Linked DNA regions of Homo sapiens. Changing the gene in region 2 together with the main gene of any one other region gives a genetic interaction. Each region holds a gene or a part of one and is shown on either strand. Other genes may lie near its edges.

Evidence for each region.
Region 1: changes in TUBGCP3 (region 2) and SSB together harm fitness more than expected from each alone (negative genetic interaction), as found in Homo sapiens cells (one large-scale study listed by BioGRID).
Region 3: changes in TUBGCP3 (region 2) and SAP18 together harm fitness more than expected from each alone (negative genetic interaction), as found in Homo sapiens cells (one large-scale study listed by BioGRID).

What each region holds. Positions count from the first base shown.
Region 1 is NC_000002.12:169,801,780-169,805,434, reverse strand, and holds part of SSB (lupus La protein), read right to left. Parts: intron 1-3,655. UniProt on the Homo sapiens protein: Binds to the 3' poly(U) terminus of nascent RNA polymerase III transcripts, protecting them from exonuclease digestion and facilitating their folding and maturation.
Region 2 is NC_000013.11:112,525,509-112,529,163, forward strand, and holds part of TUBGCP3 (gamma-tubulin complex component 3), read right to left. Parts: intron 1,977-3,655; coding exon 1,866-1,976; intron 1,543-1,865; coding exon 1,434-1,542; intron 1-1,433. UniProt on the Homo sapiens protein: Component of the gamma-tubulin ring complex (gTuRC) which mediates microtubule nucleation.
Region 3 is NC_000013.11:21,143,028-21,146,421, reverse strand, and holds part of SAP18 (histone deacetylase complex subunit SAP18), read right to left. Parts: intron 1,331-3,394; coding exon of another isoform or gene 1,138-1,330; intron 1-1,137. UniProt on the Homo sapiens protein: Component of the SIN3-repressing complex. Enhances the ability of SIN3-HDAC1-mediated transcriptional repression. When tethered to the promoter, it can direct the formation of a repressive complex to core histone proteins.

The DNA.
Region 1 (3,655 bases), on a different chromosome or scaffold from region 2:
TATGGACTCCAATCCTGACATTACTCTACAGTACCAAGTTCTGTTATTTAAAAATACATAAGTTACAAAAGGCAAAACACTTTCCCCAAATATACAATAATGTTTACAAATTAGCAAAAAGATAAAACTAAAATGTCAATTACTAAAATAGTGTAACAGATGTGTCAATAGACTAGAAAACCTTAAAGAAGAATATATTTAAAGATTATATGAAAAGGCTCTTGCAAATCAGTGTGGAAAGAACAGATGGTTAAATAAAAAGAACTGGAAGAAATTGGTTAATCACTCAATTCTTATTTTTTTTTGAGACAGAGTCTTACTCTGTCGCTCAGGCTGGAGTGCAGTGGCATGAACTCAGCTTGCCGCAACCTCCGCTTCCCAGGTTCAAGTGATTCTCCTGCCTCAGCCTCCTGAGTAGCTGGGATTACAGGCATGTACCACCACGCCCAGCGAATTTTTGTTATTTTTAGTAGAGACAGGGTTTTACCATGTTGGCCTTGAACTCCTGATCTCAAGCGATCTGCCCACCTCGGCCTCCCAAAGTGCTGGGATTGCAGGCATGAGCCACCACACCTGCCCTTCTAATTTTTTAAAATTAAAAAATAAGGGACGGGGCCAGGCACGGTGCCGCACGCCTGTAATCCCTGCACTTTGGGAGGTCAAGAGATTGAGACCACCCTGGCCGACATGGTCAAACCCCGTCTCTACTAAAAATACAAAAATTAGCTGCACATAGTGGCACACACCTGTAGTCCCAGCTACTCAGGGGGCTGGGGCAGAAGAATCATTTGAAACCGGGAGGCAGAGGCTGCAGTGAGCCAAGATTGTGCCACTGCATTCCAGCCTGACAAAAGAGTGAGACTCCATCTCAAAAAAGGGGGTGGGGGGCCAGGAGTGGTGGTTCATGCCTAATCCCAGCACTTTAGGAGGCTGAGGTGGGTGCATTGCTTGAGTCTAGGAGTTCAAGACCAGCCTGGGCAACATGGCAAGACCCCAGCTCTCCAAAAAATAAATAAATAAATAAAATAAATAAGAAATAGAGGTACGTGCCTCTAGTCCCAGCTCAGGAAGCTGAAGTGGGAGGATTGCTTAAGCCTGGCAGGTTGAAGCTGCAGTGAGGCATAATTGTGCCACTGTACTCCAGCCTGGGCAACAAAGTAAGACGCTGCCTCAAAAAAAAAAAAAAAAAAAAAAGTTAAAGTAAATGTTTCTCAAATTTAAGCATAGAGGAACTCTCAATATACAAGCCAAGGAAAAACCCAAGTATGACTATTTGGAATGCCAGAAGTAACATAAAAAGTAAAAGACAAACAAATTTTGTCAAGAATTCTTACAAACAAAGAAGAAGGGTAAAAAGAGAACACCCTAATAGAAAACAGTTAAAGGATATTTTATTGGCCTCGCACGGTGGCCCAAGCCCATAATCCCAGCACTTTGGGAGGCTGAGGCGGGTCAATTTCTTGAGGCCAGAAGTTCGACAACAGACTGGCCAAAGTGGTGAAACCCTGACTCTACTAAAAATACAAAAATTAGCCACACATGGTGGTGCACGCCTGTAATCCCAACTACTCGGATGGCTGAGGCACAAGACTAGCTTGAACCCGGGAGGTGGAGGTTGCAGTGAGCTGAGATCACCGCCACTGTACTCCAGCCTGAGAGGAGAGCAATACTGTCTCTCTGTCTTAAAAAAAAAAAAGACACTATTTTTCAGGGATCGGGTCTTGCTTTGTTGCCCAGACTGGAATGCAGTGGTGCAACCACAGCTCACTGCAGCCTGAAACTCCCGGGCTCAATTGATCTTCCTCCTCAGCCTTCCAAGTAACTAGGACGACAAGCACATGCCACCATGCCCAGCTAATGATTTTTTTAAAAATTATAAAAAATAGGCCAAGCGCAATAGCTCATGCCTGTAATCCCAGCACTTTGGGTGGCCGAAGCAGGTGGATCACCCGAGGTCAGGAGTTCGAAACCAGCCTGACCAACATGGTGAAACCCCGTCTCCACTAAAAATACAAAAATTAGCCGGGCATGGTGGTGTGCACCTATAATCCTAGCTACTTGGGAAGCTGAGGAACCTGGAAGGTGGAGGTTGTGGTGAGCCAAGATCACGCCACTGCACTCTGCACTCCAGCCTGGGAGACAAGAGTGAGACTCCATCACAAAAAATAAATAAATAAATAATGTACTGTAAACTAAAAAAAAAATCCAACCTCATTTCATTGTTAATCAAAGAAATACAATTTAAAGCAACGAGACAGCATTTTTCACCTAACAAACTGGCTAAGATTAGAAAGAAAACCAAGACTACCTAGTATTGACTTGAACACAGAGAACTAGCCATTCAGGTAGATGTAAACTGACAATTATCAGTGTTTTTTAAATGTGCATAATCCTTGAGCCAGTATGGCTCCTTCTAAGAATTTTCCTTGAAGAAATCAATAAACATGTTTACTAAGATTTATATATAAGAATATTTGTCAAAGAATGATTACAGCTAAAAAAATTAGAAACATCCTTCATATTAAAGAGGAGAATGAAAAGATTATTGATTACAAAACTTTTCTCCACAAAAATGCATCCTATATTTAGCGGGGGAAAGGGAAGGAAATAAAATTGTTAGAAATGTACCACTCTGGTGGGGGATGTTTTAAAAGGTGAAGGCACTATGCTTGTGTGGAGGCAGGGGATATATGGAAAATCTCTGTACCTTCTGCTCAATTTTGCTGTAAACCTAGAACTGTTGTAAAATATAAGGTCCACTAAAAAAATTAGTATGAGCATGAAGCAAAGTGTCAAAAGCTTTTAACCTTGATAACCTCAGAAGAGTAGGATTTGAGAGTTAGCAGGTTGTGGGAGAGATACAACCTTTTCTATATACATCTTAGTATTGTTCTAAGTATTAAACACAGAATGAATAATTTCTAATTTTTCTCCTCATAGTCATAAAGAAATTAATACCAAAAAAAGGAACATGAGACATTTTAAATGCAGAGACGTGCAGCTTAAAAAAAAAAAAAAAGCAGTTCTGAGAATTGCAGAAAAACCCCACACCAAACAATATGATCTGAGGGGTTCTTAGCAAGAACCTAAGTTTAGAGATAATTTCCCATGCAACCATTATCGATATTGTAAAGATTTTAAGGTTTTTTTCTTTTTGAGTTTAATTGAACAAAGAACGATTTGCAAATCAGGCAGCCTCCCCAGCCAGAGTATGCTCACGAAGACTCTCAAGTTTCTTCCCCTCGCCCCCTGAAACAGTGTCTCGCTCTGTCATCCAGGCTGGAGTGCAGTGGTATGATCACAGCCACTGCAGCCTCTACCTTCTGGGCTCCATCAATCCTCCCACCTCAGCTTCCCAAGTAGCTAGGACTACAGGTAAACTGCTAACACACTCAGCTAATTTTTAAAATTTTTTTGTAGAGATGGGGCCTCATCATGTTGCCCAGGCTGGTCTCTAACTCCTGGACTCAAGCCATCCTCCTGCATCAGTACTGCAAAGGTACTACGGATCACTTGAGGTATTACGTTAACATAAACATAATACCTAAATTTGAAAAAATGCTAAGAGGGTTTTGAAAACAGATACTATATTAAAGTTACTGGCTGGGCACAGTGGCTCACACCTGTAATCCCAGCACTTTGGGAGGCTGAGGTG
Region 2 (3,655 bases):
ACAGTGTCCTACGCAAAGTAAATCTTTTGAATGAACCATGACAATATAAATAGCAAATACAGCCAAAACTGGAGAGCTATAAATATAAGTTAGCCATACACAAAACATCATGAAATTACTGAGGGTGGGGCAGGCGGCAAATGGGGAAAAGGAAGAGAACGAGGGAAAGCCTCAGCACTTCCCACAGGCTGAACGCTCATGCGACATTCTGAATGCAATAAACACAATAAGTGCAATAAGTCCTGGCTCTTCTCCAAACAAAGCCTTTGCATCCCAAAGAATAGGCTACCATTAGCAATATTTTTTCTGTTATTTCTTATTTTGGCACACTGCCACTTTATCATTTTAAAACAGCTATACCTATTCCAACACTTACTGTATAACTGTATAAAAAGGAAATTAAAAATTTACACAGTACTATATATATACATACATAATACTATGTATTAAGGTGTATCAGAGAGTAATTCTAATAATCTATAAATCCTATGGTACAAAAAATACTTTTAAGTAATCTGTAATATCAGCACATCATCATCACCTCCACTATCATCACCGCTATCACCATCATCATATCATTACTATCACCATCCATCACAATTATCATTGTCATTACTATCATCACATCACCATCATCATTACCACCATCATCACCATCACTATCATCACCACCATCACTGCCACCACCACGCCATCATCACCACCATCATCACCACCCATCCCCATCATTATCACTATCATTACACCATCACCATCATCACCACCATCATCACCATCAACATCATCAACACCATCACTGCCACCACCATGCCATCATCATCGCTGTCATCACCACCCATCCCCATCATCACTATCATCACACCATCACCATCATTACCACCATCATCACCATCAACATCATCACCACCATCACTGCCGCTACCACGCCATCATCACCGTCGCCACCCATCCCCATCATTATCACTATCATCACACCATCACCATCATCACCATCAACATCACCACCATCACTGCCACCACCATGCCATCATCACCACCCATCCCCAACATCATCACATCACCATAATCACACCATCACCACATCATCACCATCATCATCATCACCATCATCACTACCACCAGCACACCATCATCACATCCCCATCATCCATCCCCAACATCATCACATCACCATCATCACACCACCATCATTACCCCCATCATCATCACCATCAACATCATCACCACCATCACTGCCACCACCACGCATTCATCATCGCCATCATCACCACCCATCCCCAACATCATTATCATCACATCACCATCATCCCCATCATCACACCATCACAATCACTACGTCATCAACATCACTGTTACCATGAGTATCACCATCCTCACATCATCATCAACATCACACCATTGCCATCATCACCACCCCACCAGCATCATCATACCGTCCTGGGGTGACTCTGCAGACTTGGTCACAGCTATCATCTTTGTAGTGGGAGTCTGATCATGACAAACTTGGTGCAAGAAATTTATTGATTTTCCTATCAAAAGGACCTAAAAAGAAAAACATTCTATGATTACTTTTATGTAAATTTAAAACGACTGCCCAAATCTACAAATATTCGTAAGCTACAAATTGGCTATTGATTGAAAACTAACAAGAGCATCTGCTACAGTATGGAGCGAATTCTAGTAACTCAAAGATATATTGAACACATACTATACTGATGTATTCAATTAACATGCACTTACTTCATCTCCAGAACGTTAACAATCTCAAAACGCATGAAATTTTAACTGAAAATTGGTTTTGTCACATAATCTAAGTATACATAGCCATAAAACATCAAAATCACAAAAATCTCTTCTAATCCTACCTTCCTAGACTGATCCATCGTCATAAACGAAGGAATCATCGATTTCCTCAAAGTATACTTGTCGTGCCACAGTCGATCTGTTTTAACTGTTGGATCTGATGCTACAAAAAACTGAAAGCAAAGGGGCATGGAAATGTTCAAGAGTGATATTTATGGCAAAATATTAACCAACAGCAACATCAAAGAGTAAGTTATTCTAGAAAGCCAAGTTCTCCAGACACAGGGAGTCTTACCTATTTATACAATAAAACTTGTATGAAACACAGAAATCTCTCTAAATTGAACTATGTATTTCCTAAACTTTTAAAACTAAAGTATAACAAAAACAAGTTATGTCTTCCTTGGAGATTCAGAATGTCCATTAGTGCCTCTGCAGCATAATACTGAGGCTTCCTGGGCCACACGGAGCTCTTCCTCAGTAACGGTGCAGGCTTTTGGGGTTCCCCTCCCTCACAGGCAGCAGCTGTGTGTCTCCTCCCATCAGTCTGCCTGCCCTTGCAGTCTCTCTTTTGCAAAGCCCCAAAGCCTGGAACACAGAGGTGCCCAGGCCGGCGTCCTCTGTTCACAGACAAGTCCCAAGCTCTATGGGCAGACCTTGCTGTACATGTACCCATGTGTACAAGGGGCCAGCACCAGCCAGGTGGCACTGTAGAAGTGACCCCTGTGTGGCTCCCCCAGGAACCATCTGTGCTCAGGAGCTTTCTTCCTCACTGGCATGCAGCTCCCCTGCCCTGACCCTGACGGGCACCTACATCACTGCCGTTAGAAAGGAAACTGAGCAGTAAGGAGAAAATTCAATTGCTGTTGCTTCCAGTTTATTTGCCACTACAACAATGCAGCCATTCTCATTTTTCAATCATACACCCTAATAGAATTGCACTTTTATTTCTATAAACTTGTTTTATAAAAGCACAACTGCTGAATTAAAGTAGCTTTTAGTTTTTATAGACAATGCCAGGTTTCCTTTCCACACAGCTGTGTAGACTGACGCTCCCACGGGCAAGATGTCCTGTTTTTGCATCCTGGCTCATTTTAGATTTTGCCAGTCAGGTGGAATCATGGTTATCCTATATTGCTGTCATTAACCAAAAATGAAGCCGAGCATATTTTCATAGTTCTAATTGCCATTTGCTTTTCTTCTCCTGTGAATGGTCTTTTCATGCCCTTGACCCATCTTGCTATTCATTTTGTTCTCTCATCAATATACAAAAATTCTTTGTACATTAGGAATAGTGACCATTTGTGAATCATTAAATATTAGAGATTTAATTTTTCCAAGTTAATCATTTGCCATTGTTTATAGTATGGTCCATATTTTAGTTCTGATCTATTTTTTTGTTATATGTAGATAAATGTCAGTCTTCCTTTATGGTTTCTGAGTTTCCTGTCTTCCTAAGATCTTCCCATTCCTAGATTATGAAAATATTGTCCATCATGTTCTTTCAGTATTTCTATTGAGTTATTTTTATTACCTAGATCTGTTTTTTTTTCTTTTTGAGACAGGGTCTCACTCTGTGGCCCAGGCTGGAGTACACTGGCATGATCTTGGCTCACTGCAACGTCTGCCTCCCCAGCTCAAGCCATCCTCCCACCTCAGCCTCCCAAGTAACTGGGACCACAGGAGCACACCACCATGCCTGGCTAATTTTTTGCATTTTTGGTAGAGACAGGGTTTCACCATGTTGCCCAGGCTGGTCTCAAACTCCTGAGCTCAAGCGATCTGCCTGCCTCAGCCTCCCAAAGTGCTGGGATTACAGGTAGGAGCCACCATGCCTGGCCTATTACCTAGA
Region 3 (3,394 bases), about 91 Mb from region 2:
TTTAGCATCTCTGAAATTGGAATGTATCTTAGAATCAATGTACTAGGAAAGCATTTTCATACTGACGTTTTGTTTTTGAGAGAGTCTCGCTCTGTCGCCCAGGCTAGAGTGCAGTGGCGTGACCTCAGCTCACTGCAACCTCCGCCTCCCAGGTTCAAGCAATTCTCCTGCCTCAGCCTCCTGAGTAGCTGGGATTACAGACGCCCACCACCACGCCCAGGTAATTTTTCTATTTTTAGTAGAGACAGGGTTTCACCATGTTGGCCATGCTGGTCTCGAACTCCTGACTTCAAGTGATCCACCTATCTTGGCCTCCCAAAGTGCTGGGATTGATTACAAGCGTGAGCCACTGCGCCCAGCCAGATGTGTTTCTTCTTTCTTAGATAGAATTGTAAGTTTTACAACAGATAAGAGTACTAGAGCCAATGAAATATACAAAAGTTTCTTACAATGAAGCACAGGCTCTTGTCACAATAGTTTCTTACCCTGCAAATATTGACTTGAATCCAACTTTCATATAGTCCCCTGAGCTAATAAGAGAACAATCTGAAAAAAATATTTTAACATATAAGCATCTTAGAAATAACCTAGTATACATTTTTTTGCCAGGTGCGGAGGCTCATGCCTGTAATCCCAGCACTTTGGGAGGCCAAGGCGGGTGGATCACCTGAGGCCAGGAGCTCAAGTTCGAGAGCAGCCTGGCCAACATGGTGAAACCCCGTTTCTACTAAAAATCCAAAAATTAGCCAGGCGTTGTGGCACACATCTGTAGCCTATAATCCCAGCTACTCGAGAGGCTGAGACAAGAGAATCGCTTGACCTGGGAGGCGGAGGCTGCAGTGAGCCAAGACTGTGCCACTGTGCTCCAGCCTGGGTGACAGACTGAGACTCTGTCTCAAAAACAAAAAAACCTGAGGTCACATTGGTTTATCTGTCTCAGAGGTGACCTTTTTTCAACCTGATATTTTGATGTTAACTATTCTGTATCAATTATAGGTTCAGTATCCCTTACCCAAAATACATGGGACTAGAAGCGTTTTAGGTTTTTTCAAATTTTAGAATTTTTGCATATACGTAAGATATCTTGGGGTTGTGACCCAAGTTTAAATAAGAAACTCATTTATGTTTCAAACATACCTTATACACAGCTGGAATACAATTTTATACATCATTTTAAGTAATTGTGTGCATGAAAGGAAGTTTGGTGCACGCCTGTAATCCCAGCTACTCAGGAGGCTGAGGCAGGAGAATCGCTTATACCTGGGAGGCAGAGGTTGCAGTGAGCCGAGATCGCGCCACTGCACTCCAGCCTGGATGACAGAGCAAGACTCTGTCTCAAAAAAAAAAAAAAAAAAAGAGGTCAAGAACTTATGTGTGCAATTTTCCACCGGTGTCACGTCAGCTCTCAAAAGTTTCAGATTTTGTGGCATTTCAGATTTTGGACTTGCGATGCTCAGTCTATATTCTGATACACAGTACATACTTATGATGATATATACCAGAAAGAATTTTTTCCTTTCTAAAAATATTTTCAATATTGTCTTGCTCTTAATTAATTTGGGGGATTTATATCACACCTTTTATCAGTTCTGACAGTGTGAAACCTACACAAGCTTCCCACCTTCTAAGGACTGTCTTTCCAGACCAACAATTGGAGTGCCAAGTGTTGCTTTTTCATCACTAGTCAGAAGCTTGAGGACAGGGTGGGGTTCAGTACTTGTGTCAGCTTGACGAAGCTACAGTCCCCAGATATTCAACCAAACACTAACCTAGGTATTGCTGTGAGATATTTTATAGATGTGACTAAAGTCAACAACCAATTGACCTTAAATTCAGAGGTCTATCCTATATAATCTGGGGAGGCCTGATTCTATTAGTTGAAAGGCCCTAAGAGCAGCCTTTCCTTCCTGAGAACCTGCCCTACAGATTTGACAATTAAGGGCCTAGACAGCCCCCACAATCACGTAAACCAAATTCTTTGCAATAAAGCTTTTTTTTTTTTTTTTTTTTTTTTTTGAGATGGAGTCCCGCTCTGTCGCCCGGGCTGGAGTGCAGTGGCGCTGATCTCGGCTCACTGCAACCTCTGCCACCTGGGTTCAAGCAATTCTCCTGCCTCAGCCTCCCAAGTAGTTGGGATTACAGGCACCCGCCACCATGCCTGGCTAATTTTTGTATTTTTAGCAGAGACGGGGTTTCACCATGTTGGCCAGGCTGGTCTCCAACTCCTGACCTCATGACCCGCCCACCTCGGCCTCCCAAAGTGCTGGGATTACAGGCGTGAGCCACCACGCCCAGCAGAAATAAATCTCTTAACACATCTCTCCCAATTCTGTTTTTCTGGCTGAGCCCTGATTGACTTTGGTGAACACAGCCTGCCTCTACTGGGCTCCTCTGGACTTCCACTCCTGTTTCCATAACTTCTCTTGGGACTGCCTATTTAACCCCACAGTCTACTTCTCCAAATTGAGAATTTCCAGTATATGTTAACTAATTTTCCCTCATTACTATTTCTGGGAATGAGGGCAGGCCTTTGTGTTACCCCCATACCAATCATCCAGTCTTTCAGAATCTTTTCTTTGGCCACCATTTTGAGATGTAACTTAAAGTTGTTCCTTCTTTGTTTGGTTGCAATTTATGGACGGTATAGTTTAGGACAGGATTTTTTTGGTAATTTTTTTTCTTGATTCAGAGTGGAAGGTCTGTGGAACAACCTCACCCTGCCATTTTAACCCTAAAAATCACTCTATTCATCCGCTTTCCCTGATAAAAGGACTTACTACAGGGAGGAGCAGTACCGTCTTGACTTTATACCCTCAGGATCTAAGCACACACAGCACCTGGCAAATAGGAACTCTTGTTGGAAGAAACATACACTTTAATTTCTGAAGAGATTTTCATCAAGCCATTATTCAACAGTTCTTCCATATAAGCTAAATCAACCTTCCTAGAACACTTACCCTTGAGTGATGCTTAAGTACAGGTATCATACTACTACATAAATTTAACAAGCACCTCCAAATAAGACAAGTAAGGTCCCAATCTTCAAGGGATTAGCTCTAGTGTACAGGGCTTAAATAGTTTAAAATTATACATCTTTTGGGGAATATAAAATAGTGCAGCTGCTGTGAAAAAGTTTGGTGGTTCCTCAAAAATTAAACAAAGTTAACATATGACCCAGTAATCCCCTCCTAGGTACATACCCAAAAGAACTGAAAGCAGCGACACAAACACATTTGTATGCCAATGTTCACAGCAGCATTATTCACAATGGCAAAAAAGGTGAAACAACCCAAGTGTCCATCAATAGATGAGTACATATGTGATGCACACATACAATGAAATATGATTCAGCCTTGACAAGGCTAAATGGATGCTACAACATTAACCCTAAAAA